Linked DNA regions of Homo sapiens. The protein of the gene in region 3 purifies or fractionates together with the protein of the main gene of each other region. This does not show direct contact. Each region holds a gene or a part of one and is shown on either strand. Other genes may lie near its edges. The genes, in order: DNAAF5, GUF1, SLC9D1, DCAF8, FADS1, TAP2 and HEMK1.

Evidence for each region.
Region 1: the proteins of SLC9D1 (region 3) and DNAAF5 purify together in Homo sapiens (affinity purification with mass spectrometry; 2 studies listed by BioGRID and IntAct, with this or other methods). This does not show direct contact.
Region 2: the proteins of SLC9D1 (region 3) and GUF1 purify together in Homo sapiens (affinity purification with mass spectrometry; 2 studies listed by BioGRID and IntAct, with this or other methods). This does not show direct contact.
Region 4: the proteins of SLC9D1 (region 3) and DCAF8 purify together in Homo sapiens (affinity purification with mass spectrometry; 2 studies listed by BioGRID and IntAct, with this or other methods). This does not show direct contact.
Region 5: the proteins of SLC9D1 (region 3) and FADS1 purify together in Homo sapiens (affinity purification with mass spectrometry; 2 studies listed by BioGRID and IntAct, with this or other methods). This does not show direct contact.
Region 6: the proteins of SLC9D1 (region 3) and TAP2 purify together in Homo sapiens (affinity purification with mass spectrometry; 2 studies listed by BioGRID and IntAct, with this or other methods). This does not show direct contact.
Region 7: the proteins of SLC9D1 (region 3) and HEMK1 purify together in Homo sapiens (affinity purification with mass spectrometry; 2 studies listed by BioGRID and IntAct, with this or other methods). This does not show direct contact.

What each region holds. Positions count from the first base shown.
Region 1 is NC_000007.14:732,786-736,858, forward strand, and holds part of DNAAF5 (dynein axonemal assembly factor 5), read left to right. Parts: intron 1-4,073. UniProt on the Homo sapiens protein: Cytoplasmic protein involved in the delivery of the dynein machinery to the motile cilium.
Region 2 is NC_000004.12:44,691,602-44,695,674, forward strand, and holds part of GUF1 (translation factor GUF1, mitochondrial), read left to right. Parts: intron 1-64; coding exon 65-198; intron 199-2,810; coding exon 2,811-2,912; intron 2,913-4,013; coding exon 4,014-4,073. UniProt on the Homo sapiens protein: Promotes mitochondrial protein synthesis. May act as a fidelity factor of the translation reaction, by catalyzing a one-codon backward translocation of tRNAs on improperly translocated ribosomes. Binds to mitochondrial ribosomes in a GTP-dependent manner.
Region 3 is NC_000013.11:113,546,316-113,550,388, forward strand, and holds the end of SLC9D1 (transmembrane and coiled-coil domain-containing protein 3 isoform 1 precursor), read left to right. Parts: intron 1-984; coding exon 985-1,064; intron 1,065-1,987; coding exon 1,988-2,137; intron 2,138-3,109; coding exon 3,110-3,223; coding exon of another isoform or gene 3,224-3,237; 3' UTR 3,238-3,914; downstream 3,915-4,073. UniProt on the Homo sapiens protein: Probable Na(+)/H(+) antiporter.
Region 4 is NC_000001.11:160,238,405-160,242,477, forward strand, and holds part of DCAF8 (DDB1- and CUL4-associated factor 8), read right to left. Parts: intron 1,967-4,073; coding exon 1,293-1,966; exon of another isoform or gene 818-1,292; intron 344-817; coding exon 203-343; intron 1-202. UniProt on the Homo sapiens protein: May function as a substrate receptor for CUL4-DDB1 E3 ubiquitin-protein ligase complex.
Region 5 is NC_000011.10:61,810,215-61,814,287, reverse strand, and holds part of FADS1 (acyl-CoA (8-3)-desaturase), read left to right. Parts: intron 1-719; exon of another isoform or gene 720-934; coding exon 935-1,045; intron 1,046-1,619; coding exon 1,620-1,817; intron 1,818-3,212; coding exon 3,213-3,314; intron 3,315-3,408; coding exon 3,409-3,537; intron 3,538-4,073.
Region 6 is NC_000006.12:32,831,808-32,835,880, reverse strand, and holds part of TAP2 (antigen peptide transporter 2), read left to right. Parts: intron 1-107; coding exon 108-238; intron 239-521; coding exon 522-727; intron 728-3,056; coding exon 3,057-3,254; intron 3,255-3,419; coding exon 3,420-3,548; intron 3,549-4,073. UniProt on the Homo sapiens protein: ABC transporter associated with antigen processing. In complex with TAP1 mediates unidirectional translocation of peptide antigens from cytosol to endoplasmic reticulum (ER) for loading onto MHC class I (MHCI) molecules.
Region 7 is NC_000003.12:50,572,028-50,576,100, forward strand, and holds part of HEMK1 (MTRF1L release factor glutamine methyltransferase), read left to right. Parts: intron 1-49; exon of another isoform or gene 50-87; coding exon 88-181; intron 182-1,343; coding exon of another isoform or gene 1,344-1,799; exon of another isoform or gene 1,800-2,673; intron 2,674-4,073. Other genes in the region: uncharacterized protein C3orf18, read right to left, coding at 1,344-1,799. UniProt on the Homo sapiens protein: N5-glutamine methyltransferase responsible for the methylation of the glutamine residue in the universally conserved GGQ motif of the mitochondrial translation release factors MTRF1, MTRF1L, MRPL58/ICT1 and MTRFR.

The DNA.
Region 1 (4,073 bases), on a different chromosome or scaffold from region 3:
TGTCTCCTCACTATTGATTGTTTTATTTGCTGTGCAGAAGCTTTTTAACTTGATGTGATCCCATTTGCCCAGGCCATGTCCCAGAGAGTTTCCCCAATGTTTTCTTTTAGTGGTTTCATAGTTTGAGGTCTTAGATTGAGGTCTTTAATCTATTTTGATTTGATTTTTGTACATGGTGAGAGATAGGGGTCCAGTTTCATTTTTCTGCATATGGAGTTCCAGTTTTCCCAGCACCATTTATTGAAGAAACTGTCCTCTCCCCAAGATATGTCCTTGGCACCTTTGTCAAAATAAGTTCACTGTAAATGTATGGATTTAATTTCTGGCTTCTCTATTCTGTTCCATTGGTCTGTGTGTCTGTTTTTATGCCAGTGCCAAGCTGTTCTGGTCGCTGTAGCTCTGTAGTATAAATTGAAGTCAGGTAATGTGATCCCTCCAGTTTTTTGTTTGTTTTTGTCTTGTTTTGTTTTTTGCTCAGGATGGCTTTGGCTATTCAACGTCTTTCGAGGTTCCATATAAATTTAGGATTATTTTTTCTATTTCTGTGAAGAATGTCATTGGTATTTTGATAGGGATTGCGTTGAGTCTGTAAATTGCTTTGGGTAGTATGGACATTTTGGGTAGTATGGACAATATTGATTCTTCCAGTCCATGGAGTATGTTACCATTTTTTGTGTGTGTCCTCTTCAGTTTTCTCATGTCAGTGGTTTATAGTTTTCTTTCTTTTTTTTGAGACAGTCTCGCTCTGTCATCCAGGGTGGAGTGCAGTGGTGCGATCTCTGCTTACTGCAAGCTCCGCCTCCCAGGTTCACGCCATTCTCCTTCCTCAGCCTCCCGAGTAGCTGGGACTACAGGTGCCTGCCACCGCACCTGGCTAATTTTTTGTGTTTTTAGTAGAGACAGTTTCACCATGTTAGCCAGGATGGTCTCAATCTCCTGACTTCGTGATCCGACTGCCTCAGCCTCCCAAAGTGCTGGGATTACAGGTGTGAGCCACTGCGCCTGGCCTTATAGTTTTCATTGTAGAGATCTTTCACTTCTTTGGTTAAGTTAATTCCTAGGTATCTTATTTTGTTTGTAGCTATTGTAAATGGAATTACTTTCTTGATTTCTTTTTCAGATTTGTTAACTGTTGGCATGTAGAAATGCTACTGGGGCTTTTTTGGTGATTTTGTATCCTGCAACTTTACTGAATTTGTTTATCTGTTCTAATAGGTTTTTTGTGGAATCTTTAGGTTTTTCCAAATGTAAGATTATATCATCTGCAAACAAGAATAATTATCTTCCTTTTCAATTTGGATTCCCTTTATTTTTCTTGTCTAATTGTTCTAGCTAGAGCTTCCAGTACTGTGTTAACTAACAGTGGTGAAAGCGAGCATCCTTGTCTTGCTCCAGATTTAGAAGAAAGGCTTTCAATTTTTCCCCATTCAGTGTGGTACTAGCTGTGAGTCTTGTATATGGCTTTTATTGTACTGAGGTGTGTTCCTTCTATACCCAGTTTTTTGAAGATTTTTATCATGTAGGGATGTTGAATTTTATCAATACTTTTCAGCATCACTTGAAATAATCACGTAGTTCTTGTCCTTCATTCTGCCGATATGATGTGTCACATTGATGGATTTGTGTATGTTGAGCCATCCTTGCATTCCTGGAATAAATCTCACTTGGTCATGACAAATGATCTTTCTCATGTGCTGTTGAAACAGTGGAAACTTTGCGTCAGTGTTCATCAGGGATATTGTCCTGTAGTTTTCCTTTTCGATTGCATCTGGCTGGTTCTGGTATCAGGGTAGTACTGGCCTCATAAATTAAGTTTGGAGGTATTCCTTCCTCTTCTAGTTCTTGGAATAGTTTGAGTAGGAGTGACATTAGTTCTTTAAACGTTTGATAACATTTGGCAGTGAAATATTGCGACCCGGGCTTTTCTTTGCTCAGTGGCTTTTCATTGCGGCTTCAATATCATTACTTGTTACTGGTCTGTTCAAGGTTTGGATTTATGATTTAATCTGTGTAGGTCATATGTGTCTAGGAATTTATCCATTTCTTCTAGGTTTTCCAATTTATTGGCATATAGTTGCTCACAGTATAGTTGCTCACAGTGTAGCTGCTCACGGTGTTGCTCACAGTGTCGTTGCTCATATTGTAGTTGCTCATATTGTTGCTCATAGTGTTGTTCTTCATGGTATAGCTGCTCACAGTGTCGCTGCTCACGATGTCATTGCTCACGGTGTAGTTCATGGTGTAGCTGCTCACGGTGTAGCTGCTCACAGTGTCGTTGCTCATATTGTAGTTGCTCATACTGTTGCTCATGGTGTTCTTCATGGTGTAGCTGCTCACAGTGTCGCCACTCACGATGTCATTGCTCACGGTGTAGTTCATGGTGTAGCTGCTCATGGTGTAGCTGCTCACGGTGTAGCTGCTCACGGTGTCATTGCTTATATTGTAGTTGCTCATACCGTTGCTCGTGGTGTTGTTCTTCATGGTGTAGCTGCTCACAGTGTCGCCGCTCACGATGTCATTGCTCACGGTGTAGTTCATGGTGTAGCTGCTCACGGTGTAGCTGCTCATGGTGTCGTTGCTCATATTGTAGTTGCTCATATTGCTCATGGTGTTGTTCTTCATGGTGTAGCTGCTTACAACGTCGCTGCTCACGGTGTAGTTGTTCATGGTGTAGCTGCTCCCGGTGTAGCTGCTCATGGTGTCGTTGCTCATATTGTAGTTGCTGATATTGTTGCTCACGGTTTTCTTCATGGTGTAGCTGCTCACAGTGTCGCTGCTCACGATGTCATTGCTCACAGTGTAGTTGCTCACAGTCTCTAATGATGCTTTGAATTTCTGTAGTATCAGTTGTTTGTAATGTCCTCTTCGATCTCTGATTTTATTTACTTGGGTCTTCTCTTTTTCTTAGTCTGGTTAAAGGTGTGTTGATTTTGCTTGTCCAAAAATCTAACTGTTCATTTTGTTGGTCTTTTGTATTTTTTTTAATTTCAATTTCATTTATTTCTGCTCTTATTTCTTGTCTTCTACTAATTTTGGGTTTGGTTTGCTCTTGCTTTCCTAGTTCTTTACGATGCAGTGTTAGGTTGCTGTTTGAAGTTATCTGCTCTTTGAATGTAGGTGCTAATTGCTATACACTTGCCTCTTAGTGCTGCTTTTGCTGTTTTTGCATATTGTGTTTCCATTTTCATTTAAGAATTTTTAAAATTTCCTTCTTAATTTCTTCATTGACCCACCGGTCATTCAGGAGCATATTATTTAATTTCCATGTATTTGTGTAGTTTCCAAAGTTCTTGTTATTAATTTCTAGTTTCATGTTTTAAGGCTTGTTTCGTGGCCTAACATATGGTCTGTCCTTGAAAATGATCTGTGTGCTGAGGAGAAGAATGTGTATTCTGTAGCTGTTGGATGCAATGTTCTATAAATACCTATGAGGTCCATTAGATCTATAGTACAGATTAAGTCTGATGTTTCTTTGTTGATTTTCTCTCTGGATGATTTGTCCAGTACTGGAAGTGGGGCATTGAAGCCTCTAGCTGTTACTGTGTTGGAGTCTGTCTCTCTCTTTAGCTCTAGTAATATTTGGTTTATATATCTGGATACTCCAGTGTTGGGTGCATATATATTTAAAGTTGTTATATCCTCTTGCTGAGTTGACCCCTTTATCATTATATGATGACCTTTGTCTCTTAGTATAGTTTTCGTCTTGAAATCTGTTTTGTCTTAAGTGTAGCTATTCCTGCTCTTTCTTGCTTTCCATTTGTATGGAATATCTTTTTTCGCATCCCTTTATTTTCAGCCTACGTGTGCCTTTTTAGTGACGTGTATTTCTTGTAGGCAACAGATTGCTGGGTCCTGTTTTTCTTTACCCATTCAGCCGCTCTGTCTTTTGAATGGAGAGTTTAGTCTGGTTACGTTCAATGTTGTTATTGATAAGTAAGGACTTACTCCTGCCGTTTTGTTGTTTTCTGGTTGTTTCGTGGTCTGCTCTTCCTTCCTTCTTGCCTTCTTGTTTTCCTTTTTATGAAGATGATTTTCTCTGGCGGTATGTTTTAATTTCTTTTTTGTGTGTGTGT
Region 2 (4,073 bases), on a different chromosome or scaffold from region 3:
ATACATCATTCCTCAGTATTTGAGTAGGTTATCATTAAACCCATTTTCTTCCTTCCCTTTTTAGGCTCGAAGAGCAGTTCAGAAGAATATGATATTTATTGATCAAAATAGAGTTATGCTTAAATATCTCTTTCCTTTGAATGAAATTGTGGTAGATTTTTATGACTCTTTGAAATCCCTATCTTCTGGATATGCTAGGTAAAAAAATAATGAGAACCTAAGATGCCTGACCAACTTTTTTGAAATATTGATGAGCAAGGGTATACTAATTCTTCATTTATTTAGTAATTTCAGCTTTCTTGAAGATAGTTGAGAATCATACTCTAAGGTTAGAATGACTTGGAACAACTTTATAGGTGTTACAGACTACTTGTGATTTGCTTATAGGAGAAAAGTTTCCTTTGATTTATTATCTAACTTTTATTTCTCTTTTAACAAAAAAAGTTAGTCCCCTTTTCATGAAGAGCTGTATTCCTTGTCTGTTAAGAATTAGACCTAATTTCAAAAATTTACCATAACCTCAGTGGCACTTTTAAAATGTATATTTATGTTATGCAATCTCAAGAGCATCTATTTACATTTGAAAAATAAAAGTGCATATTCAGTCTGTAAAAAATGTTAGATGTGCCGCTCCATTAGTGAACACTTTAATAACTTAGTCTTTTGAGGAACAGGTTGTCCTCATCACGAAAACCTTTGTGTATCTCATAGGAGTACATGGAGAAAAGCCAGATAAAAGTGAAAGGAGAGTTACTATTAAATAACAAATAAGAAACTCAGGGCATAGCATTCTGAGAGGCTGTTTTTTGTTGTTGTTGTTGTTGTTGGGGCATATAACTCTAGATACCCTCACTATGCCCTAAAATCTTATGTTACGGGATAGTATATATAGAAAACAGATGTGAAACATGGGGAAGCAGGAGGGGAAAAATGAACATTGACATCTATAAAACTCCCACACAGTGCATGAATGTTAATGTTAACATGCAGAGACAAATTCCAGTGTTTAACAAACATGCTACAGTGACTTGGAAGTTTAACTTTATTTAATCATCTTGTCAGTGAAGAGAGTTAGCATATATAATTCTTCTTACCAAGGAATCTTCATGTTCCTTTGTATTGAGAATTTTCTTCTACTTTGTCACCCAGTTTTTTCTTCTTCTATGTCTTCTTTCAGACAAGACCTTGAGCAAGTAAGTGGCAATGGAATTTAAAGTAAAATGAATTGAGGGGCATATTAAAATTACTAGAGTTGAAAGGAAGATTAGTAGGTTTAATGTTTATAAATATTTTTAACAGAAGTCTGTCAATTTTAGTTTGCATTTGGGTACTACTTTCTGAATTATAAGTGGTCTTAAAAAGCCTTGTCGTTTGGAAACTTAAATACATTTTGAATTTAATGAGAGAACATGATTTATTTTTGAACTACATAAAAATAAAATATTCCAGCTTCCAGCATTAAGGTAATTATGTTCAAGATGGATGTTTTACATAGGCAGTCAATTCCACACTTAACAGAAAGTCATCATAGACTATGAATTAAGATCAGGAAAAAACTTATTTCATACCAGGAGGCAAGAATCAACAGCAACTAGTAGCTTTTTGGAATTACAAATGTGTTTCCTGCATTCTAAGGAAACACTAGAATACCTATGTTTTCAATAGAGGTTAGGTATCAATTGGACTGCTTGGAAACAAAAACACAATTTTTATAATGATTTCTTTTGAAAAAATGAGTTAAGAAATTTTTAAGATTTTTAATATTTTGGACCACAACATAGCTGGAGCTGTAACAACTTCAAAGTTAAGGACCATGTCTGTTTTATTCTCTATTTGCTTTGTATTCTGTATGATACTTAACATGGTATCTTTCATACAGTAAATGTATAAGTGATGCTTCCTGAAGAAAGAAAGGATTTTAACAGTACTTCTGAAAATAATCTGTTAATAGAGTGTATTATTGTCACTTTATGACCTTCCTGCTGAAAATCTTTAGAAACCAAATATAATTTTGCAAGTCCAGGCACCAATTGTTTTAAAATTAAGACAATAGGAGTATACATATTCTTGTCTGTGATTGGGACAACTTGTAAGCCTAATTGAAATTTTCTTTAGACTTCAGTTTTATAAGTGAAACATTTAAATGTCTGTTTTGACTAACATTACAAGCTTTGACCACATTGTTAAAAGTAATAGCTGAAACTAAGTGCTTGTGTGTGCTAAGCTAGGCTCTGTTTAAACACTTATTATGTACTAGGCATTGCTCTAATTGGTTTACATGTATTAACTCATTTAATCCTCACAAAAGCCCTGTGAAGGGAGATGCAAGCTGAAGAGCCAAATAGGAAATCCAAAGGTCTCATTTATTAATGGCATTTTATGAGTGTCATAGCATTTATTTAAACATAGAGTTGTCATTGGTAATAGAAAGTTAAACAGAAACCCAACTCATGAATCTGAAAATGATCCATTAATAATATATAGTATTGTCCGAAGCCTCCCAGCTGCTGGGAACATTGGGAAGGCATGATATTTGTCTTCAATAAACCATTTTCTTTGTCAGGTTCACCAGCTTATTTTCCTTTCCCCTATAAACATATTCCCCTTGCTTTTGCCCTTGATTTAATAAACATAAAAAGATAACATTTAGATCCATTCACAAGAAACTGTATATGTAATATTTTGATGGAAACATATCTCTTTGGGGAGTGTAATGCGGTAGAAAGTAGACATTTAGTAAAGAGTAAAGAGTAATAAAGGTAATCTCTCAGGAAGTGTAATATTTATCACTTGGACTTTTTTCCTTTTAGTTTTGATTACGAAGATGCAGGCTACCAGACTGCAGAACTTGTAAAAATGGATATTCTACTGAATGGAAATACTGTAGAGGAGCTAGTAACTGTTGTACACAAGTAAGTTCAATAGAAACTAATCATGGAATGTGAAAATACTTTTGATATGTTTTTCATTTATTTTTGTTTGAGCAGCTGCATTTAAAAAACTTCTAAGGTAATTAAAATAGAGTTCACCCTACTAACTTTGCTTTCTCTTTTTTTTCCACACTTCTCTCTAGACTGCTAAAAATAGAACAGAGCTATAATAGTCAAAAAGAACAGTGTCATAGAAATGTTTCCCTTCACCATATTAAAAAAAGTTTTAAACATTTTATAATGATGGATTTAGAATTGGGAACAAGTTTTTTTGTTTTGTTTTGTTTTTTTTTTAGATGGGAGTCTCATTCTGTTGCCAGGCTGGAGTGCAGTGGCGCAATTTCTGCTCACTGCAACCTCCGCCTCCCGGGTTCAAGCAATTCTCCTGCCTCAGCCTCCTGAGTAGCTGGGACTACAAGCGCATGCTACCATGCCCGGCTAATTTTTGTATTTTTAGTAGAGATGGGGTTTCACCATATTGGCCAGGATGGTCTCGATCTCTTGACCTCTGATCTGCCCGCCTCGGCCTCCCAAAGTGCTGGATTTACAGGCGTAAGCCACCGCGCCCTTTTATATTTGTAAAAAAATTATAAAAAGGAAAACCCCCACGTGTTCAAGAAACAGCAGATTGGTTAAAATGAATTACAAAGCACCCATATTGTTATTTTCAGCCATTAAAACTTGTGGAGTAATATTTAGTGACATAAAAATGTCTGTTAAATATAAAGAGGGTAGAATATATCGTAAACACTGATCATACAAAAAAATGCAAAAAAGTGATTAGAAAGATAACTGTTTAAAATAATCATTCCAAAATGTTTAACCGTTTTCAGCGGGTAAGGAAAGAGAATCAAGAACAGTTTCTATTGTCTAATGTTGTATTTCTAAATATTCTGTAATCATACATTACTTTTTTAAATCAGAGAAGTTGTTCATGATTCAGAGAGTAAGAGAGATTTATAAGTAAGTTCCATTTGAACCTCCTTAAGAGATCACCTTTACACTGATTATGCAACTGGCCTAGAAAAATACTTGAAATATTCTTATTTAGGATATATAAACAGTTGTATTTTTCTGTCTCAGAGACAAAGCTCATTCAATTGGCAAAGCCATATGTGAACGGCTGAAGGATTCTCTTCCTAG
Region 3 (4,073 bases):
TGGGGCTGGGGCTGATGAGGGGGACACAGTGGGGCCAGGCTGGTGGCCGGGGTAGGAGGGGCCGTGGGGAGCACTGGGAGTGGGCATGGAGGGGGCAGCTCTGAGACCCAGACCCAGGAGGAGGGGCCGTGGCTAGAAGACTGGGTGGCCAGAGAAGGCAGCCCTCAAGCGCAAGAGAACCCCGGGTCGTGGCAAGAGAAAAAAGGCCAGTGTTTACATTTGTGTTTCTGGGTCAGGTAGAGACAGTGGTTTGTGAACGGCAGAAAGGTCATGGGCCTGCTCCGTGCACCTAACCCTGGGGTCTGGGTCCTTCCGATCAAGAGGAGGCCTCTGGGCTGCCGGGCTTCCTCCGAGGGCTGACATGCATCACTGGGCAGCTCCAGGCTGTGGCTGGAGAGCTGAGCCCAAGCTCAGGTCCAGCCCCAGCACCGCCGGCCCCTCTGCGTCACTCGGCAGCACAGCAGGACTGAGCAGCCCAGTCCGAGAGTCCTGAGAGCAGAGAGAAGAAATATGTGGAGACAACGTTTCCCATTGTTTTTAAAAATGTGTGAGCCAAATAAAGGAAGGAAAGGAACATTGACCACAGGCGTCCTGTGAGCGTGGCACTCCTGGGCACTCCTGGGCACTGTGGGGCTGTGGGCTCTGGGATCATCTGCACCTCAGCTGGAATATTTCCTGAAGGAGTGCCAGACCGAGTGCCGCCTCTGTGTGTTTTGCTGTGTCCTCTGCAGTTGAGGCCTGTTGCAGGGAGTGGAGCTGGGATCCCACCACATCAGACAGGTCATCCCAGGGCAGGCTTTTCCCCGGTTCGCTCAGGAAAGGGGCGGCTTTTTAGCATTTGCTGTTGCTTTCACACGTGCACTTGGGAGGATTTAGGATTTTAATTCCTGTATTGAAGCAAGTGACACACTGAAGTTGTGAGAAATAGTGTGCGCTGGGGGAGGCTGTCCTGCGGTCGTAACGTGTCTGTCCTGTTCCCAACAGGGCTCCACGTGTTCCCCACGTTTGTGGCGTACGAGCTCACGGTGCTGGTGTTCCTCACCTTGTCAGTGGTGGTGATGAAGGTATGGACTGGAAGGGTCCACGCCCCTCGCAGTTTGCAGGCTCAGCATAGCCCTCCCTGTGGCCCTGGTTTCCAGTGGGGCCCACATCGGGCCTGCAGAGCCGGCCCTGCTCCTCATCTCGGAGGAGGCCCACTGGGCCACTGGACCCCGGGGGAGGCAGATGTAGACGAGGCTGGGCGGTCTGGGTTTGTCCATGTGATCGATTGTTTCAGAATTGAGCGTGTTTAAAGGGGGGAACTAACCTTTTGGGACCCTCAGGACGGGCCTTGGCTGCAGTCCAGCCCGTCCTCCTCTGACAGATGCAGACATGCTTTTTAAAGACTGGAAAATGGTGTAGGCACTTTCTGTCTGTCCCCCGTGACTGCCAGTGATCGAGCTGCCTGTGTCCACATTTAATTGAAGGTGTGATGACCTAGTCAGCAACCAGTGGCTTTCTGGCTCATAGACAGTGACTTAGGTCATTTCCGTTTTAAGGAGCCAGAAGCTGTGATGATCGTTGGACCACTCCACCAGCTCTTAGCTACTCGGCCCAAAGACACACCACCAGCTCTTAGCTGCTCGGCCCAGAGACACACATCTCTCTGTATTAAAAAGAAATTTCCACCTTGAGTACCCCACGCTTAATGCTATTAATCTAGTTTGGTTGGGGCGGGGGCGGGGGGGCTTGGGCAAGGCTTATTATTTTCTGCTAATGAACCGAAAGGCTTAATTTTGCCTTATTGTTCAGTGTGGATTATTTAAGAGGTTTTGCGTGTATTTGGTGCCTTCGGGTGTTTGGAGTGCTTCTGTGCCTTTCCCTACTTGACGTGTTATTCAGGGACCATCGCAGCGTGCCTGTGGCTCGTCTGGGTTCTCTGTTTCGTGTGTGTTTAACTCTGTGTGGGTCCAGTCTTCAGCAGTGACGTAATGAACCGCTCTTGCAGTTTCTCCTGGCGGCGCTGGTCCTGTCTCTCATTCTGCCGAGGAGCAGCCAGTACATCAAGTGGATCGTCTCTGCGGGGCTTGCCCAGGTCAGCGAGTTTTCCTTTGTCCTGGGGAGCCGGGCGCGAAGAGCGGGCGTCATCTCTCGGGAGGTGAGTGGCTTCCCCCCGCGGAGCGCTTCTCGGGCGGCACGGGCTGCACTCTGGGTTTGAGTCGGGTGTGGCGAAGGCGGCTCGGCAGCACAGCGGGGCCTGGGGGCAGGGTCCTCCTCCAGGGGGGCACGCAGAGGCCTGGCTGCTCTCTGCTCATCCAGCATGTGGCGTTTTCAGAGGAAAGTTGCAGTTAGTACTGCTTGAACTATTGCATTAACCTTTTACAACAAGTCTAATTAAATGTCAGATATTTCTTCTGAAAGAAAACTAACTTTTTAAAGCTGAACTGCCAGTGTGCACATAAGTAGCACCCCAGAAACGTGAAATACCCGTAATGGCAGTGTGCCCGGAGAGCTGGGTGGAGGTTCCTGTGGACACTGAGATGGCCCTGGGCATTCGGACTCACGGCCTTGTCTCCTTGCATTGTGTAAGTGTGAGGCGGGTAGAAGTCCAGGTGTTGAGTGCAGTGGAAGTAATTGCTGAAAGGTAGAATTGCTTACAGGAAGCTCCACCTGAGGCCTGACCCAAGGCCGCATCCCCAGGGTCAGGGAAGCTGTGGGGCAGGCTGGCTTGTTACTGTGGCCCGGGGTTGGCCTTCAGGCAAACACAGGCTAAAGCTGTTATCCTGTGGCCCATCAGGACTAACCATGCATCACTGATCTTGAAATCACAGTCTCTCCTACATCCCAATGTCCTCAGCTTCTGGCTGTACTTCCATGTGCTTTAAAGAGATAGTAGTGAATTTATGATGTGCAGGCGTCCCTCCCAGCACTCGGCATGACCGCGCTTAGCTTCCATCCCCCACCCCCCCGTGCAGGCATCCCTCCCAGCACTCAGCGTGACTGTGCTCAGCCTCAGGACTCTAGCTTTGCAGGCGTCCCTCCCAGCTCAGTGAGACCAGCCCTGTGCTTTCCTGTTGCAGGTGCTAGTCCTGACAGTCTCTGTGACCCGCTCTGCACTTTGCTGTTGCAGGTGTACCTCCTTATACTGAGTGTGACCACGCTCAGCCTCTTGCTCGCCCCGGTGCTGTGGAGAGCTGCAATCACGAGGTGTGTGCCCAGACCGGAGAGACGGTCCAGCCTCTGATGGCTCGGAGATGATGGACCGTGGAAGGGAAGCGTCTGTGGGGAGTGAGCGCTTAGATGGCCAGCAGCTGCTCCTTCTGGGAAGCTCGCACCTTGGCAACAGAACAGCCCTCTAGCAGAGCGTCAGTGCAGTCGTGTTATCCCGGCTTTTACAGAATATTCTTGTCCTATTTTAGAATTTTCCGGAGTAGTTTATTTGCAGTCTGTTGATTATGTGCAGTAGACCCGGGACACTGCGTTTTACCGATCACCTTGAATGTGGTGCCTGGATGTGCCTTTTTTTTTTTTCCCTGAAATTATTATTAATTTTCTATTGTGAGTTCATCAGTTCATAGTTTTTTTAGTAAAGAAGCAAAATTAAAAGGCTTTTAAAAATGTACAACTTCAGAATTATAATCTGTTAGTCAAATATTTGTTATTAAACATTTCTGTAATATGAAGTTGTAATCCTGGCCGTGAGCTTGGAAGCTTACTTTTGATTCTTAAAGCCTATGTTTTCTAAAATGAGACAAATACGGATGTCTATTTGCCTTTTATTGTAACTTTTAAATGAAATAATTTCATGTCAATTTCTATTAGATATATCACTTAAAATATTTGGTTTTAAATCACAAGAATATGTATTCTTTAATAAAGATAATTTATGATCATGGTATAATTAATTGAAATTTATTAAAATCTGTTTTTATTAATTTTTTTGTATTGAGCTTATCTTTATACAAAATTCCAGCCAATTTTTTTTTTTACTAAGATGATTTCTATATTAACATGCTATTCTCCAAGACACCAAATTAATGCAGTGTTAATTGATAAGTTCTAACTTTTGATATTTAAATATCTATTTTGGTGAT
Region 4 (4,073 bases), on a different chromosome or scaffold from region 3:
TAGGGACTTTTCAGATACTTGCCTTCCTAGGAGTTTAGGGTGGCTGCTTTTGCTCCTTTCTTAACCACAAATCTTAGGACTGAAAGAGGTGAGGCACATGACCACAACAAATGTGACACAATGGGCAGAGATAAGGGAGAACCTTGGCTGAGAACCACAGAGGATTTGGATTGCACAAATTTTGGAGCAAGGTCTTACTTACCTTGTGGGACGCTCCCTTGTGCTGGGCCACACGTTTTGTATTCTTGCAACACTGTGTGGCAGACAGTTCTGCTACTCGAACCTGCCCGTCACGGGCACACATGGCCAGAGTAGAATCACCACTGTTAGGAAGAAACTTGGCCTGGGGTGTTAAAAATGAAAAAAAGGACACACAAAAGAAATGAGAGAGGTAAACTTGAGAATAAAAAATACGATGATGACCTCAACTTACCCCCTTTTCTTACATGACAGCTGGAAACTTAGCTTTCCTACTCTTGTACAGCTGGCTAAGCCCAATTTCTTCCAGGAGTTAAAGGAAAGGGAGAGAAAAAACTTCCTTTGATGTAAGAGAGCATTTCAGTTGGCTCTGGAAGATTGAACTGGCACATGATAAGAGCTCAGATGAACTAGGACTGTATCTAGCAGAGGAGAAAAGGAATAGAGGAGGAAAAATCTACTTTGATTAAGAAAGTAAATATAAATTTGCTACAAAGAAAAAGGAAAATAGGGGGAATGTCAGGGAAGAAAAGAGAACACCCTTAGGATAAATGGCTGGTACCAGTACAGTAGATGGGGCCAAGGAGTAAAATCTTTCCAGAATAACAACAGTATAAGCTAACATTTATCAAATGTTTATTAAGTACCAGTCACAGTTCTAACTGCTTAGCTTCTATTGTTACTTAATCCTCATAACCCTATGTGTTATTAGTCCCATTTTACAGATAAACTGAAGACAAAGGTAAAATAACTTGGCCAAGATCACTGAGCTAGTAAGCAGAAGGGCTAGGATTTGAACTCAGGCAGTTTGGTTCAAGAGCCTGTGCTTATACTACACTGCCTCCTACCAGCACACATTTAATAAGCTGCATGCACCCTACCTATGAGGCTTCCAACAGTCCACATGCTCAAGGAATCTAGGGTTGCCAAGAGTCTTTCAGTGTATTTAGGTCATTAGGGGAGCCAAAGTAGGGCCATGTCCCGATATGTAATTCCTACAATAACTCACTATCAGCTCCCAATCCATGCTGCAGTTCAGATTTCTCTAACTCATGCCTGATTCTCTCAGTTGCTATTATGCTCCCTTGCCTCACCTGGAACACATTACTTTTGTGGCCACTCTCAAAGTCCAGTACTGGCTGCCGCCGTACCCAATCCCACACCACCACCTTCAGGTCATCGCTGCCACTGGCCAGCCAGGTGCCGCGCTGGTTAAAGTGCAGGGTATTGACACAACCAGTATGGCCCTCAAGCCCATGCTGCAGGCGGAAACGCTGCACAAAGACTCTTGCCCCACAGGCCTCATAGACAAAGCGGGCACTTGAACCCAGCTCCCGCTCCCGAAGGGCAGGGAGGGCTTGCCAGCGAGGTCGGGGTAGAGCTGATGTTTCTGAGGACACCCAGTCCTCTAGGGCCCGCTCATCATCTGATGAGTCCTGGTCACGGTTAGCCCGCTTGCGCTGTACACGGCGCCGAGGCTGCTCTTCTTCCTCCTCTTCTTCCTCCTCTTCCTCTTCCTCTGAGCGGTCATGGACTCGATTTTCATCATTAATGGAGTAATGACCAGTGTCCTCCATGCTGTCAGAGTCCTTATCTTCACCTGAGCTCTCTGTGTCTGTGCCTCGACTTTCTGTGCTGGTGCGGTTGGGGCCACCATCATCCCCAGTCAAGCTCAAACTCAGGTCTGAGGCCTCCACTTCAATGCCTGAGGATGTCTCCCTCCCCTCTTCAGCTCCAGACATCTCCTCTGGACTGCTAGACAGGCTTCCTGCATGTTAGTGAGGAAGGAGTAGAGGAGAGGGAAAAATAAGAAAACAGGATAGTGACCACCTTAGTCTAAGAAATCTTCACATCAAAAGACCAAAAAATGAACTTTGGTCCAAGTGTTTTCATTACAAATAATTACAGAGAGTACCCTCTGAGGGGAAATCTTGTAAAGGACAAGAAATTGAAAAGATTAAGATCAAATCCACACACATAAAATACTTCAACAAAAGCAAAGAATCTCAGGACAATCTAAGATTATATTAAGTTCTCAAGAGGCAAAACATTGGCATATTGTATAAAAGTGTGCCTGATACATCTACCATTGGCTCTGTTGTATTGGATGGGCATTTATTAAGTTATAGCAAATAATTAAACAGAATATAAAAAGAAGAGCCAACTCCAGCAAGAGCTAGCATAGCCATCTTCTTAGCGAAAGACGGAAACCAGCTGATAAAAATCACTCTTGACTTATGGATGTGGTGTTGCACCATTTCCTACTTTAAGAAAGTATCAGGCCAGGCACGGTGGCTCACGCCTGTAATCCCAGCACTTTGGGAGGCCGAGGCACGTGGATCACGAGGTTAGGAGATCGAGACCATCCTGGCTAACATGGTGAAACCCCGTCTCTACTAAAAATACAAAAAATTAGCCGGGCGCCTGTAGTCCCAGCTACTCAGGAGGATGAGGCAGTAGAATGGCATGAACCCAGGAGGCAGAGCTTGCAGTGAGCCAAAGTCGCACCACTGCACTCTAGCCTGGGCGACAAAGCGAGACTCCATCTCAAAAAAAAGAAAGTACCACTACACCTTCTGTCACCTAAATCCTAAGCTTCTTCCCCACCTAAGTTTCTAAAATTCACTAAGAAAGCAAGCTGAAGGGGTAAGTGGGAATTGTGATCATTTGAGTGGGTTCTTGCTCACCTTTTGCTAGTAAATATATTTTGACTTACTTCCATTAGTTTGAATTTTTTAATATAATTCTTAGTCACACATTTTTAGTCTCTCTATTGAGACAGTTTTATTAGGAAGCATATATAAAATTGATAAAAAGCTGGGCTACTATAGTGGTGCCTAAGACGAAAGTTCAGTATATTCTAGGTCTGCTATGCTGATAGTTAAATAACTAGGTCACTTTTATCGATCTTATCTCCTATAACTACATACTGCATTCTCTTAACTCACAACAGTCAAGTCAATTCCAATGAGAACTTGAGGAATGTTCTAAAGCCAATACAACCACAACTTCCAACCTAAGTCAAGGTGTGAAGAAAAAAGGGGAGAATAAAGATTTTAAATGCTGCTCATGGGCCTCCTTTCCTCAGATGGCTATAAATTTTATCCGCCAGAAGTAAAAGCTGTCAGGAAAGGCAGACCATCCAGTATGAGCTATTCAACTCCAATACCACACTGATGTTTAAGGATTCAAAGGTGGAGCACCTTATTGCCTAGTCATGTGGATTAGAGCAGTAATTTGTGAAGAGCTCTGAAGCAATGTACTCTTAAGCAAAACCCAATACTGAAAAAAGATCAACAATACAAGTGCTTTGATTCAAGCAGTAACAGAAGCCCAGAAGACATAAACAGTTCTTGCAGGCTGGGCGCGGTGGCTAACACCTGTAATCCCAGCGCTTTGGGAGGCCAAGGCGGGTGGATCACCTAAGGTCAGGAGTTCAAGACCAGCCCGGCTAACATGGTGAAACCCCCATTTCTACTAGAAATACAAAAAATTAGCCGGGCGTGGTGGCATGTGCCTGTAATCCCAGCTACTTGGGAGGCTGAGGCAGAAGAATCGCTTGAACCTGGGAGGTGGAGGCTGCAGTGAGCCGAGATTGTGCCACCGTACTCCAGCTTGGTAACAAGAGCAAAACTCTGTCTCAAAAAAAAAAAAAAAAGCCTCAACTAAGAGCACAGTATAAAACAACTGGGCTAGGGGCTGGAAGAAAAAGTTATGAAGTACAGAAATTTGAACCCAAGGACCACATTTGCTGAGCCTGTTATATATGCTACGAAAGTTTAGCAGTTACAGTTTTTTGAAATGCAGCTGGGCTTGAGCTTGGGAGTGGTGAGCAGGGACTGAAACACCAACCTAACAGGTCTGTAGAAAAGAAA
Region 5 (4,073 bases), on a different chromosome or scaffold from region 3:
GTGATCTTAAACTGTGGACACCTGGGAGCACCCTCAAAAGGCAGCTGGGCCTAGGGAGATGGCCTGTGCTTCTGTGTCAGGAGTTGGTTCCTTCAGGTGGGCTCGTGGTCTCGCTGACGTCAAGAATGAAGCCATGAACCTTCGCGGTGAGTGTTACAGCTCTTACAGGTGGCGTGGACCCAAAGAGTGAGCAGCAGCAAGATTTATTGTGAAGAGCAAAGAACAAAGCTTCCACAGCGTGGAAGGGTACCCGAGCAGGTTGCCGCTGCTGGACGTTGGGGGGTGTGAGGGGGAGCAGCCTTTTTTTTTTTTTTTTTTTTTGAGACGGAGTCTCCCTGTCGCCCAGGCTGGAGTGCAGTGGCGCGATCTCGGCTCACTGCAGGCTCCGCCCTCCCCCGGGGTTCACGCCATTCTCCTGCCTCAGCCTCCCGAGTAGCTGGGACTACAGGCGCCCGCTACCTCGCCCGGCTAATTTTTTGTATTTTTAGTAGAGACGGGGTTTCACTGTGTTAGCCAGGATGGTCTCGATCTCCTGACCTCGTGATCCACCCGCCTTGGCCTCCCAAAGTGCTGGGATTACAGGCGTGAGCCACCGCGCCCGGCCGGGAGCAGCTTTTATTCCCTTATTTGTCCCTGCCCATGTCCTGCTGATTTGTCCATTTTATAGAGCACTGATTGGTCCATTTTACAGGGTGCTGATTGGTCCATTTTACCTCTAGCTAGCTAAAGAGCACGGATTGGTGCATTTTACAAACCTCTAGCTACAGAAAAGTTCTCCAAGTCTGCACTCGACCCAGGAAGTCCATCTGGCTTCACCTCTCACTTCAACTTGGGTACAGCCTTCTGGCGGGCAGGAGGATGGCCTTTGGTGCGAACACTGCCGGAGTCCAGGGGGCTGGCTCCCTCACCTTTCATCTTCTCCCGGCACTTGCAGGATCCCTTTGTGGCCTTCCACATCAACAAGGGCCTTGTGAAGAAGTATATGAACTCTCTCCTGATTGGAGAACTGTCTCCAGAGCAGCCCAGCTTTGAGCCCACCAAGAATGTAAGACCCTGTGTTTGCTATGTCGCAACTATTGGTTGTTGAGGGGGACAGAGAGGGGGTGGAAGGAGAGTCTAGATGGGATCACAGTCATAGTAATCACAGTCAGTAGTAGCTCTGGGGAGTCTTGAGGTCCCTGCTTCTCTTGCATAGTCATGAGGTCACAGGCCCAAGGGAGCATGGCTTTGCAACCTATGGCTCCCCCAAGGCTGCCACTACCATGGCTGCCATCATTGTTATCATCATTGTTATCATATGAGCACTTACTATGCACCAAGCATAAACTCATAACTCTTACACATTTACAGATGAGATAACAGGCTCAGGGAGGTTAAGCAACACAGCCAAGGATCACACAGTTAGTAAATGGCAGAGCAAGGACTTAGTCCCCTGAACTCTTAGGCACTATCCCATGGCACCTCCTCCTGTCATCCTCATTGTCGTGGTATCTTTGCCTAGGACTGTGGACTTCCCACAGCTACCTCAGTGGGAGGTCCTTGAGCCTGAGAGGGCCCTTGTCTCCAGTAGCATTGGGGTGCAGATGAGAAGAATAACAGCTCCTCTTCCTCTTCTGCAGAAAGAGCTGACAGATGAGTTCCGGGAGCTGCGGGCCACAGTGGAGCGGATGGGGCTCATGAAGGCCAACCATGTCTTCTTCCTGCTGTACCTGCTGCACATCTTGCTGCTGGATGGTGCAGCCTGGCTCACCCTTTGGGTCTTTGGGACGTCCTTTTTGCCCTTCCTCCTCTGTGCGGTGCTGCTCAGTGCAGTTCAGGTGAGAGCCTTTGGCTTGTCAAGTGCACAGCAATGCTCAGCATCCCTGGGGAAAGCTCCTTGGGTGTTTGAGGAAGGCCAAGAGTGCCTGCCCTCCAAGCAGGGCAGATCTGAAGGTATGCAGGAGTGAGTGCAGGAACATGCATTCTGCTGTCTTGACCTGTCTGCTCTTTAGCCACATGGACATCTTCATTTCTCTCACTGCCTTTTTAGCTGCTTCTCCAAGGGTTCTCTTCTTCCTATGCGGTTTGTTCTCTGCCACAGCCCACCTGTGCCAGGAGCCAAGTTTCTGGTTTCTTAGCAAAGCTTGGCTCCCTCCCCACCACTGACATTGCCCAATATGTTAATAATGATTGAGCGCTAATTCTTGACTGTCAGGACCCATTTGGCAAGCCTTCTGCTCATGTTTCAGTCCTTTCTGTATTCTAGATGTCAGTCCATCATAAGTCATGAGCTTCAGGCCAGGTGTGGTGACTCATGTCTGTAATCCTAGCACTTTGGGAGGCCAAGGTGGCCGGATCACTTGATCTCAGTTCAAGACCAGCCTGGCCAACGTGGTGAAACCTCTACTAAAAATACAAAAAGGCCAGGCACAGTGGCTCACGCCTGTAATACCAGTACCTTGGGAGGCCAAGATGGGCAGATCATTTGAGGTGAGGAGTTCAAGACCACCTGGCCAACATGGTGAAACCCCGTCTCTATTAAAATACAACAGTTAGCTGGGAGTGGTGGTGGGTGCCTGTAATCCCAGCTACATGGGAGGCTGAGGCAGGAGAATTGCTTGAACCTGGGAAGCGAAGGTTGCAGTGAGCCGAGTTGGCACCATTGCACTCCAGCCTGGGCAACAGAGCGACACTCTCAAAACAGGCCAGGTATGGTGGCTCACGCCTGTTATCCCAGCAGTTTGGGAGGCCAAGGTGGGCAGATCACCTGAGGTCAGGAGTTCGAGACCAGCCTGGCTAACATGGTGAAACCTCGACTCTTACTAAAAATACAAAAAAATCAGCCAGGCTTGGTGGCGGGCACCTGTAATCCCAGCTACTTGGGAGGCTGAGGCAGGAGAATTACTTGAACCCAGGAGGCGGAGGTTGCAGTGATCTGAAACCGCACCATTGCACTCCAGCCTGGGCAACAAGAACAAAACTGTCTCAAAAAAAAAAAGTCATGAGCTTCGGAGCTGGCGAAACAGAAGAACAGAGAAGGGATGGTGATTTGCCCCAACTCACGTGTGAGTCAGTGGCAGAGGCAGAACTAGGACCCATGTTTCCTGACTCCTGAGGTGCATCACAGGCCTTGGCAGATGAAGGAAGTGGGAGAGGCTGAAGGAGGCATCGAGGTCAGTGAAGGCGACACTGGGGCTGGTGGGCTGCTCTCAGTGTTGACTCTTCTCACCTAGGCCCAGGCTGGCTGGCTGCAGCATGACTTTGGGCACCTGTCGGTCTTCAGCACCTCAAAGTGGAACCATCTGCTACATCATTTTGTGATTGGCCACCTGAAGGTCAGTGGGATGGGGAGGAGCTCTCTAAAACTCCAGGCAATGAAGGGCTGCCTTGGGGGAAGCTTTTCATACTCGTGTCCCTGCTTTTCTGTAGGGGGCCCCCGCCAGTTGGTGGAACCACATGCACTTCCAGCACCATGCCAAGCCCAACTGCTTCCGCAAAGACCCAGACATCAACATGCATCCCTTCTTCTTTGCCTTGGGGAAGATCCTCTCTGTGGAGGTGCGTGGAGGTATCAGTGGAAAGGTCTTGGGGAATAGGAGGCAGCCAACATAGGGGAGTTGGGGAAGATGCCCACGATGTTGTCAGTGTGGGCAAGACACTGGGGCTGGGCTGGCTGGGGCTTTTGCCATTTTGGAAGTTCTGGAAGGCAACAGGCAATAGATGGGGGCTGCCCAGGAGGGAGTCACCATCCTCCCTAGAGAGTTCAGTCAGCAAACCGTTACTGCATAAAAGGCACCTCATTTTGCAAAGGATCCAGCGGATGACCAGAAGGATCCAAATGATGAGATAGCCTATCCTTGAAGGTGCTGATGGCACCTCCTGGAGGTGCTTTTTTGACACTCTTGCCCCAGGCAAGTATTCCCCTTGCACTTTGTATTTCTCTCCCACACTTAGGTATCCTTCTTGTCACAGTCTTCTCTGTCCAGGGCTGGACTGTCTTACTCTTCTTTCATGTCCAATATCTGGAACATTCATTCACTGAGTACTTCTTCCCACCCTGCTGATCCCCAGCCTGATTTCCTGGGTGGTCAGCG
Region 6 (4,073 bases), on a different chromosome or scaffold from region 3:
TTCCCCTGACTTTGCGCTTCTCTGCACTCCTGGCTTGCTCCTCTGTTTCACCCGCTGGCTTGCTCCTTCTCTGCATCTCCCTCCCCTCTTATTCTCCTACCCCACAGCTCACTGTCTGCAGGCTGCCGAGGAGGCTGCTTCACCTACACCATGTCTCGAATCAACTTGCGGATCCGGGAGCAGCTTTTCTCCTCCCTGCTGCGCCAGGACCTCGGTTTCTTCCAGGAGACTAAGACAGGTGGGGCCTGGAGTCCAGGTCTGAGATTCCCATGGACATCCCTTGCCCCTCAGTGACCTTCCACCCACAGCCTCTCCTCCTGCCTTCACCCGTATGCCAGGACTTGGGGATGCTTTTCTCTTGTTTGGGACAGGGTGGAGAAGCAGCCTCCACTGTCCCTCTGCAAGTGAAGGAGGATGTTCAGAGGAGGGGGCTGTGTCAGAGGGAACGGTCAGGAGGGAGTTTCTGGGGGCCCTGCAGTACACATGGTTTCCTTTTTCCTCACCTGCTCTGTCCTTCTTAGGGGAGCTGAACTCACGGCTGAGCTCGGATACCACCCTGATGAGTAACTGGCTTCCTTTAAATGCCAATGTGCTCTTGCGAAGCCTGGTGAAAGTGGTGGGGCTGTATGGCTTCATGCTCAGCATATCGCCTCGACTCACCCTCCTTTCTCTGCTGCACATGCCCTTCACAATAGCAGCGGAGAAGGTGTACAACACCCGCCATCAGGTGAGCGTGCATGTAAGGGAACCCCAAAGGGAGAATAAAACTGACAGGTGAGGAGGCTTCCACATTTGTGGCTAGAGGATCCCCTAGAGAGAGATGTTCTCTTCTCAGCCATTAGGGGAGAAGGTATATTGTAGTATATACTACATTTTGTTTGTCCAGCCATCCAACAATGGATATTTGACTTCAGAAGATTCATGATTCTCCAGAACTGTAAACAAAAATGTAAAGTGTATGTGAAGGTATGGGGGAGGGAATAGGAAGGGGAGATGATAGGCGATGATAACTTTTCATTAGCTTCTCAAAGGAGTCTGTACATCCCCCGCCCCCACTGCGAAGATTAAAAATGGTTTCTTAGAGGCTTTTAGGCAGGGAGATTTTCCCTTTAAAATCAGCAGAAGAAGTCTGGATGCAGCATAGGGAAAGGAGGCGTCATCAGGAAGTCCTAAGTCTGAATGTCAGCTCCACCTTCTCTTTTTCTCTTATATTGTGGTAAAACATACATAACATAAAATTTACCATTTCAACCATTTGAAGTGTACAGTTCAGTGACATTTAGGAAACCCACATTGTTATTGGGTAACCATCATCACCATCCATCTCCAGAACTTTTTTCATCTTCCTAAAATGAAACTCTGTACCCACTAAATAGTAACTGCCTACTACCCCCAACCCCTGGCCGCTGGCAACCTCCATTGTACCTTCTGTCTCCATGAATTGTGATGACTCCCGGTGCGGTACGTAAGTGGAACCATACAGTATTTGTCTTTTTGTGACTGGCATATTTTACTTAGCGTAATGTCTTCAGGCCTCATCCATATTGTAGCATGTGTTAGAATTTCCTCCCTTTTAAGGCTGAATAATATTCTGTTGTGTGCATATATCACATTTTGATTATCCATTCATCTGTCAATGGACATTTGCGTTGTTTCCACCTTTTGGCTGTTGTGAATTATGCTGCTGTGGACATGAGTGTACACCTGTTTGAAACCCTGCTTTTGGTTCTTTTGGGTATATACTTAGAAGTGGAGCTGCTGGATCATATGGCAATTCTATTTAACAATTTTTGAGGAACCATGTATTAGTCCATTTTTACGCTGCTGATAAAGACATACCCAAGATTGGGCAATTTACAAAAGAAAGAGGTTTATTGGACTTACAGTTCCATGTGGCTGGGAAGACCTCAAATCATGGCGGAAGGTGAAAGACACATTTCACATGGCAGCAGACAAGAGAAAAGACAGCTTGTGCAGGGGAATTCCCCTTTTTAAAACCATTATATCTCGTGAGACTTATTCAATATCACAAGAACAGCATGGGAAAGACTTGCCCTCATGATTCAATTACCTCCTACCCAGTCCCTCCCACAACACATGGGAATTCAAGATCAGATATGGGTAGGGACACAGCCAGATCGTATCAAACCACCATACAGTTTTCCATAGCGGCAGCACCATTTTAAATTCCCACCAGCAGTGCATAAGGTTTCCAATTTCTCCACATCCTCATCAACACCACTTTCTGTTGTCTTTTTTTTTAATAGCCATTCTAATGGTGATTAGGTGATTAGGATTATCTCATTGTGGTTTTGATTTGCATTTCCCTAATGATTAGTAAATATTGAGCATCTTTTCGTGTGATTTTGGCCACTTATGTTTCTTTCTTGAAAGAATGTCTGCAAGTTCTTTGCCCATTTTCTGATTTTTTTTTAAGTTGTGGGAGTTCACTATATGTTTTGCCTATTAATTTCCTATCAGATATATGATTCACAAATATTTTCTTGTATTTCATGGTTGCTTTTTCACTCTGTTGCTAGAGTTCTTTGATGCACAAACGTTTTAAATTCTGATGAAGTCTGATTTATCTATTTTTTGTTGCCTGTGCGTTTGGTGTTATATCCAAGAAATCACTGCCAAATCTAGTGGCATGAGGCTTTTCTTCTACATTTTCCTAGGAGTTTTATAGTGTTAGCTCTTATGTTTAGGCCTCTGATCCATTTGGAATTACATCTCCACCTTTCTTAACTATCTGTGGCTCCTTGGGAAAACTACCCTTCTTTCCTGATTCAGACACTGGGGATGGGAAAATTACCTCAAATGAAGGTTAAAAAAATTGCATGTATCTCCTATACTACCTAACACTGAGAGCTCAATAATATTTTGTTCCCTTGCTCCTTCACTCTTATTCCTTCTGGAAAGAAGAGTAAGGAAGAGGGAGAGAAACAGTTTGGTATTTTTAGGTAGACTAGGGAGCATCTCACTGGCTGGAGTAAGATGTGGGGGCCTGCTGTCTTTGCACATCAGCCCTGGTGTTTGCTGGCCCTCTTTTCCAGGAAGTGCTTCGGGAGATCCAGGATGCAGTGGCCAGGGCGGGGCAGGTGGTGCGGGAAGCCGTTGGAGGGCTGCAGACCGTTCGCAGTTTTGGGGCCGAGGAGCATGAAGTCTGTCGCTATAAAGAGGCCCTTGAACAATGTCGGCAGCTGTATTGGCGGAGAGACCTGGAACGCGCCTTGTACCTGCTCGTAAGGAGGGTAAGATACCAGAGTGGTTGTGAAAGGAGCCCAGGAAAGGGGGAGGGCAAGGGAAGAGGAAACTACAGCTGGTTCTAGAGGCCTTTGCAGCTCAGTCTCATAGAGGCAGAGAGGGGGAAAGAATGGGAAGATTCCCAGCCTCATCTCTTTCTTCTCCTCTTCCAGGTGCTGCACTTGGGGGTGCAGATGCTGATGCTGAGCTGTGGGCTGCAGCAGATGCAGGATGGGGAGCTCACCCAGGGCAGCCTGCTTTCCTTTATGATCTACCAGGAGAGCGTGGGGAGCTATGTGCAGGTGAGCGAGAAGCCAAGCCTGCTCTCCTTTTTTCCCTCTCTTTTTCTTTGTGGACTCCTGGGCCTTGGGCTTTATTTGTTCTTTTTAACAATACAATACAAAACCAAAACCCGCAAGTAATTTTGCTATGGAGAATTTTAAACATATGCCAAAAATGAGACAAAATAATATTACAAACTCACATGTATACATCCTGTGCTTTAACAATGATCAACTCATGCCCAATCTTGTTGGATCTGTATCCCCAGCCACTTCCCCCCACCCATATTATTCTGAAGCAAATCCAAGATATTGTATACTTTCATCTGTAAATATTTCAGTATGTTTCTTAAAAATACAAACATCTTTAAAAGTGTATAACAACAAAGCCATTATCACACCAAAAAATTAACAGTAGTTCTTAAAATTTATCAAATAGTCAATTGTCAAATTTCCACTTGTGGTATCCATGTAGTATATGTGTATGAGTGTGTTTATTATACTTTGCTTAAATCAGGATCCAGAAATGGTCCACATATTGTGACT
Region 7 (4,073 bases), on a different chromosome or scaffold from region 3:
TTTGGCCACAAGTGGTATCTCAACCCAGGCATGGTCCTGTTGGTCCTAGCTCTGTCCCTGATGACCACCCAGCTGCCCCCTCTGCAGGATGCCGGTGCAGTACATCCTTGGAGAGTGGGACTTCCAGGGGCTCAGCCTAAGGATGGTGCCCCCAGTGTTTATTCCTCGGCCAGAAACAGAGGTAGGTGTGCCACCAGGGCAAGGCAGGATCAGGATGATGGTGGAGTTCAGGGCACCAGTCTTACCCCAGGCTTCCTCCAGGGGGCACTGGGGCCCCATGACTTCAGGGACAGTGCCTTTCTAGACATGTATTTCCTCTCTGACTGTGTTGGCAGAGCCCAGAGGACAGAGGATTCCTGTTGGTCCCCTTGACTGTTATGTTCCAAGCTATCAACCCAGCCTCTAGGTCTGGCAATGGCCCAGAGTGCCTCAAATAGTGCTGCCCAAGTACTTAGCCTGTTCTGCCATTTCTCTGGGAGCCATCCCATGGCTCACCCAACCCACAGGGAACAAATGTCTTCCAGCAGCTTCTCAGGAGGCATGGAGGAAGTGGAGAGGGCTCCAGCCGGACACCTGGAGACCTGGTATCAGCTGTGCAACCTTGGGCAGGTCACTGCCCTCCTGCCATCTCTGGGCCCAGATGATGAGAGGGTTAGCCCTCCAGCCCAGAGAATCTGGTGGCCCTCTTAGGTCTACTGACTGGTCTGGTAATCACCTGTGTTGTCCCTCAAATTACTAGGACTAGGGATGTGTGGCGCAAGTGTGTTATCCCTTGGTAAGGCACCCTGGTCCTGGAAGAGACGCTTTATATGGCCCTTCTTGGACTCCCCTCTGACCTTGTAGATGACAGAGCTGGGAGCCAGAGGGCGCAGACCAGGGAGTAGAGCTGGGTGAGAGCTGGTGGGCAAGCCAGAGGGCGCCAGGTTCTGAGAAGGAGTGTTTCTAGAAAGACCTAGGCACACAAACATTTCTGGGAAAGGTTAGTTCCCATTCCCCTGCTGTGGCCAGGGGGCCCCAAACCCTTCTTTCACTTTCTCAGCTTCTGTCCCCTAGCCAAGAAACTCTCTGACCCCTCTCCTCTCCATATCATGTGGTTGGGAGGCCAGGTCCTTGCTTCACTGCCCAGTGTCAGGGCAGGGACAGTAGGGAATCTGAGGCCTTGCTGAAGTCACAGGGCTGTCAAGGAAGGGAGCATGGGGGCAGCACGTGGACTTCCTGACTCCCAGCTCAGAGCCCCATCCCTCACATGGGGCTGCCCCATCTGGGATTGGCATGACCTAGGACACAGTATGGAGACCCAGAGCAGGGTGTGGCCTGCCACCTGCAGACTTTGGGAGGCTTACCTGTGGCTCCTGAAAACACGTGATCTCTGGCGAAGAGATCATTTGCTGTCTCCGGCTTCCCAGGGTCAGGGCATGGTGACTTTTGAGTTCCTTCAGAGCTGACCTGGCACCAGCCATATGTGCCAGGGTTCTGAGTATCAAGTGTGGACTTTGGCTCCCATGTGGCCCCCTGATTCTTGGATGGGTCTGGGCCAAGAGAGCAGCTCTACTGCAAGGGGTGGGGTGAGGGGAGATGCTGCGATTGGGAGGCCAGGTGCTCATCTTGCTGTGCAGACATTTCTGAGAACTCACCAGGTTCACCCCAATGTAAAGCCACATCGGGGGATGCCTTACCAAGAACTCAAGAGGACGTGGCCTGTGGCAGGGAGTAGTGAGAATGGGTGCAGGGGATGGTTTCTGATGAAAGGGGAGTCTGAAGTGCAAACTTGCAGGAGGCATGTGCCCAGTGAGTTGCATTTTCCCTAAGGGTGAGAAGGTGGTTCAGCCCCTGGCCTGGCAGTGAATACAGTAGGAAACTCAGGGCTGGGGGTGTGAACCATTCTCACCCAGCCTGCTGTGAGGCTGTACAGGTTGTGGGAGGCTCAGTGTTTTGTCTGTGATTGGCTTGAAGGAGGCAATGCCACCTCCCTGGGTCTGCCCCACCAGGGATGCCATCCTAATAGAGGGTACTCATGGGCACTTAGGTTCTGCCCAGGCCTTGGGCCAGCCTCTTGATGGGGTATGGAGTCCATGTTGGGGCAGCAGTTCTAGGCAGAGCCAACAACTGCCTGCCCCTCACCTCTTTCCCGCATGCGTCTGTGCCCCACCCTGTTCTTGGATTCTTACCATATTCACCTGGAGGGGGTGCCCTGAGCCTGTGACCAGCATGGCTTTTAGTCTTGCCGAAAGAGCCACCAGCGTTAGGCTGAGGGAGGCTCTTCACTAGGAGGAGAAGAGAAAGTTTCTGGACTCCTTGGGCTGTTATCTACCCCTGCCCCAGGTGGCTCTACAACCAAGATGAGTTTCCGGTGCTCTGGAGTGTTATGGCAAACAAGAGGCCACTAGTGGTGGCAGGGGCTCAGTTTCTTAGCTTCTTACCCTCCCCAAGGTGGCCATCCACATACGTGGTGTGTGTCTTTGAGGTCTTTGAGTATCTCTGTGAGGTGGCTGGCCAGTGTGGCTGGCTGAGGGGTCATTCTCCAGCCAGAGTAGGTCTGTCTATGACCAGGAAACCAAGAGAGGCTTACACACCTGACAACAACTGGTCACCCTACCAACCTCTCAGCTTGTGGCCTCACCACTGAGACCACAGGCTCTCAGCCACAGCCCTATACTGCTCACTCTGTACCTGGCCCAACCTTGCAGGCTAAGCTTGCCACAAGTACCTTAGTGGTCTCCAGTAGTGCCTGGCACAGGGCTGGTGAGAGCTAGTGAATACACACTCTCTCCTGCTGGAACTGGGCCCCCTCACCCACAGGCAATCATTTGTTAGGTGCAGAAGAGGCTTGGAACATGGAGGGTTGGACCTGCTGGCCAAGTTCTGCCTGCTTTGGACTTGCCACCCTCAGGGTGGGTGAACATTGTTGCTGGGTTTGGGGGCCTGGAAGGGTGAGATGCTTTTTGGAACCCAGCACTGGGGAACTTATGTGGAAAATGGGTGTGAGTGATCTGGAGCCCTCTGCTCCATTGGGCCTGGCTGATGGCATTGGGGTGTGGGGGAGACCTGGGGGTGTGAGACTCAGAGGGTGGTGCCACAGAGAGCTTGCCCATCACTTAGAAAGTAGCCAAGAGGGCCAGGCGCTGTGGCTTACACCTGTAATCCCAGCACTTTGGGAGGCTGAGGCGGGTAGATCACCTGAGGTCGGGAGTTCGAGACCAGCCTGACCAACGTGGAGAAACCCTGTCTCTACTAAAAATACAAAATTAGCCAGGCACAATGGTGCATGCCTGTAATCCCAGCTACTTGGGAAGGCTGAGACAGGCGAATCGCTTGAACTTGGGAGGCGGAGGTTGCGGTGAGCCAAGATCGCGCCATTGTACTCCAGCCTGGGCAACAGAGCGAAACTCTGTCTCAAAAAAAAAAAGAAAAGAAAAGAAAAAAAGAAAGTAGCCAAGAGGTTTGTCTGTGGGCCAAGCCCTGCCAGTGTGGGACACACTGCGATGAGTCAGACCTCAGGTCTTCCTATTATGGCGTCTGGTGGGAGAGGCACACCCCATCCTTAGGCTAGACCTTAGGCTCAGGGTGGAGAAAGCCGTGGTAGAGCCTGGCCCAGGCTTGAGGAAGGCTTTCTGGAATAGGTAGTCCTCTTTTCAGATCAGGGAAGCACCCACTTGCTGCCCACCATCCCCAGCTCCCTGAGCCAGTCTTTCCTGAGACCTGGGGTCCCAGGAGTCCTGACCCTCTGGGGGGCTTCTCTGCCCACATCCAAAGGGATGCCTTTGAGAAGGAGCTACACTGCCCTTTCCTTGTCTCATGCCTGGCTACTCAGGTGTCCCACTCCACTGCTGGTTAGAAAAATTTTGGCCATTGGACGGCAGGAGCCTTCCACCCTTTACCCCTACCCTATGTTGGTTTACAGGCATAGTCCTTGCAGGCAGTGGCTGGGTAGGCAAGGCTTGAAACCCTCTTGTTTCCAAAGTGACAGTGTCTGAAAATGTCCTCCTGCTGCCAGGGCAGGTACAGTGCAGTCAGGCACCTCCCTCTGCACCCATGCCTGTTGACCTATGCCTGTGTATGCCACAGCCCTCAGG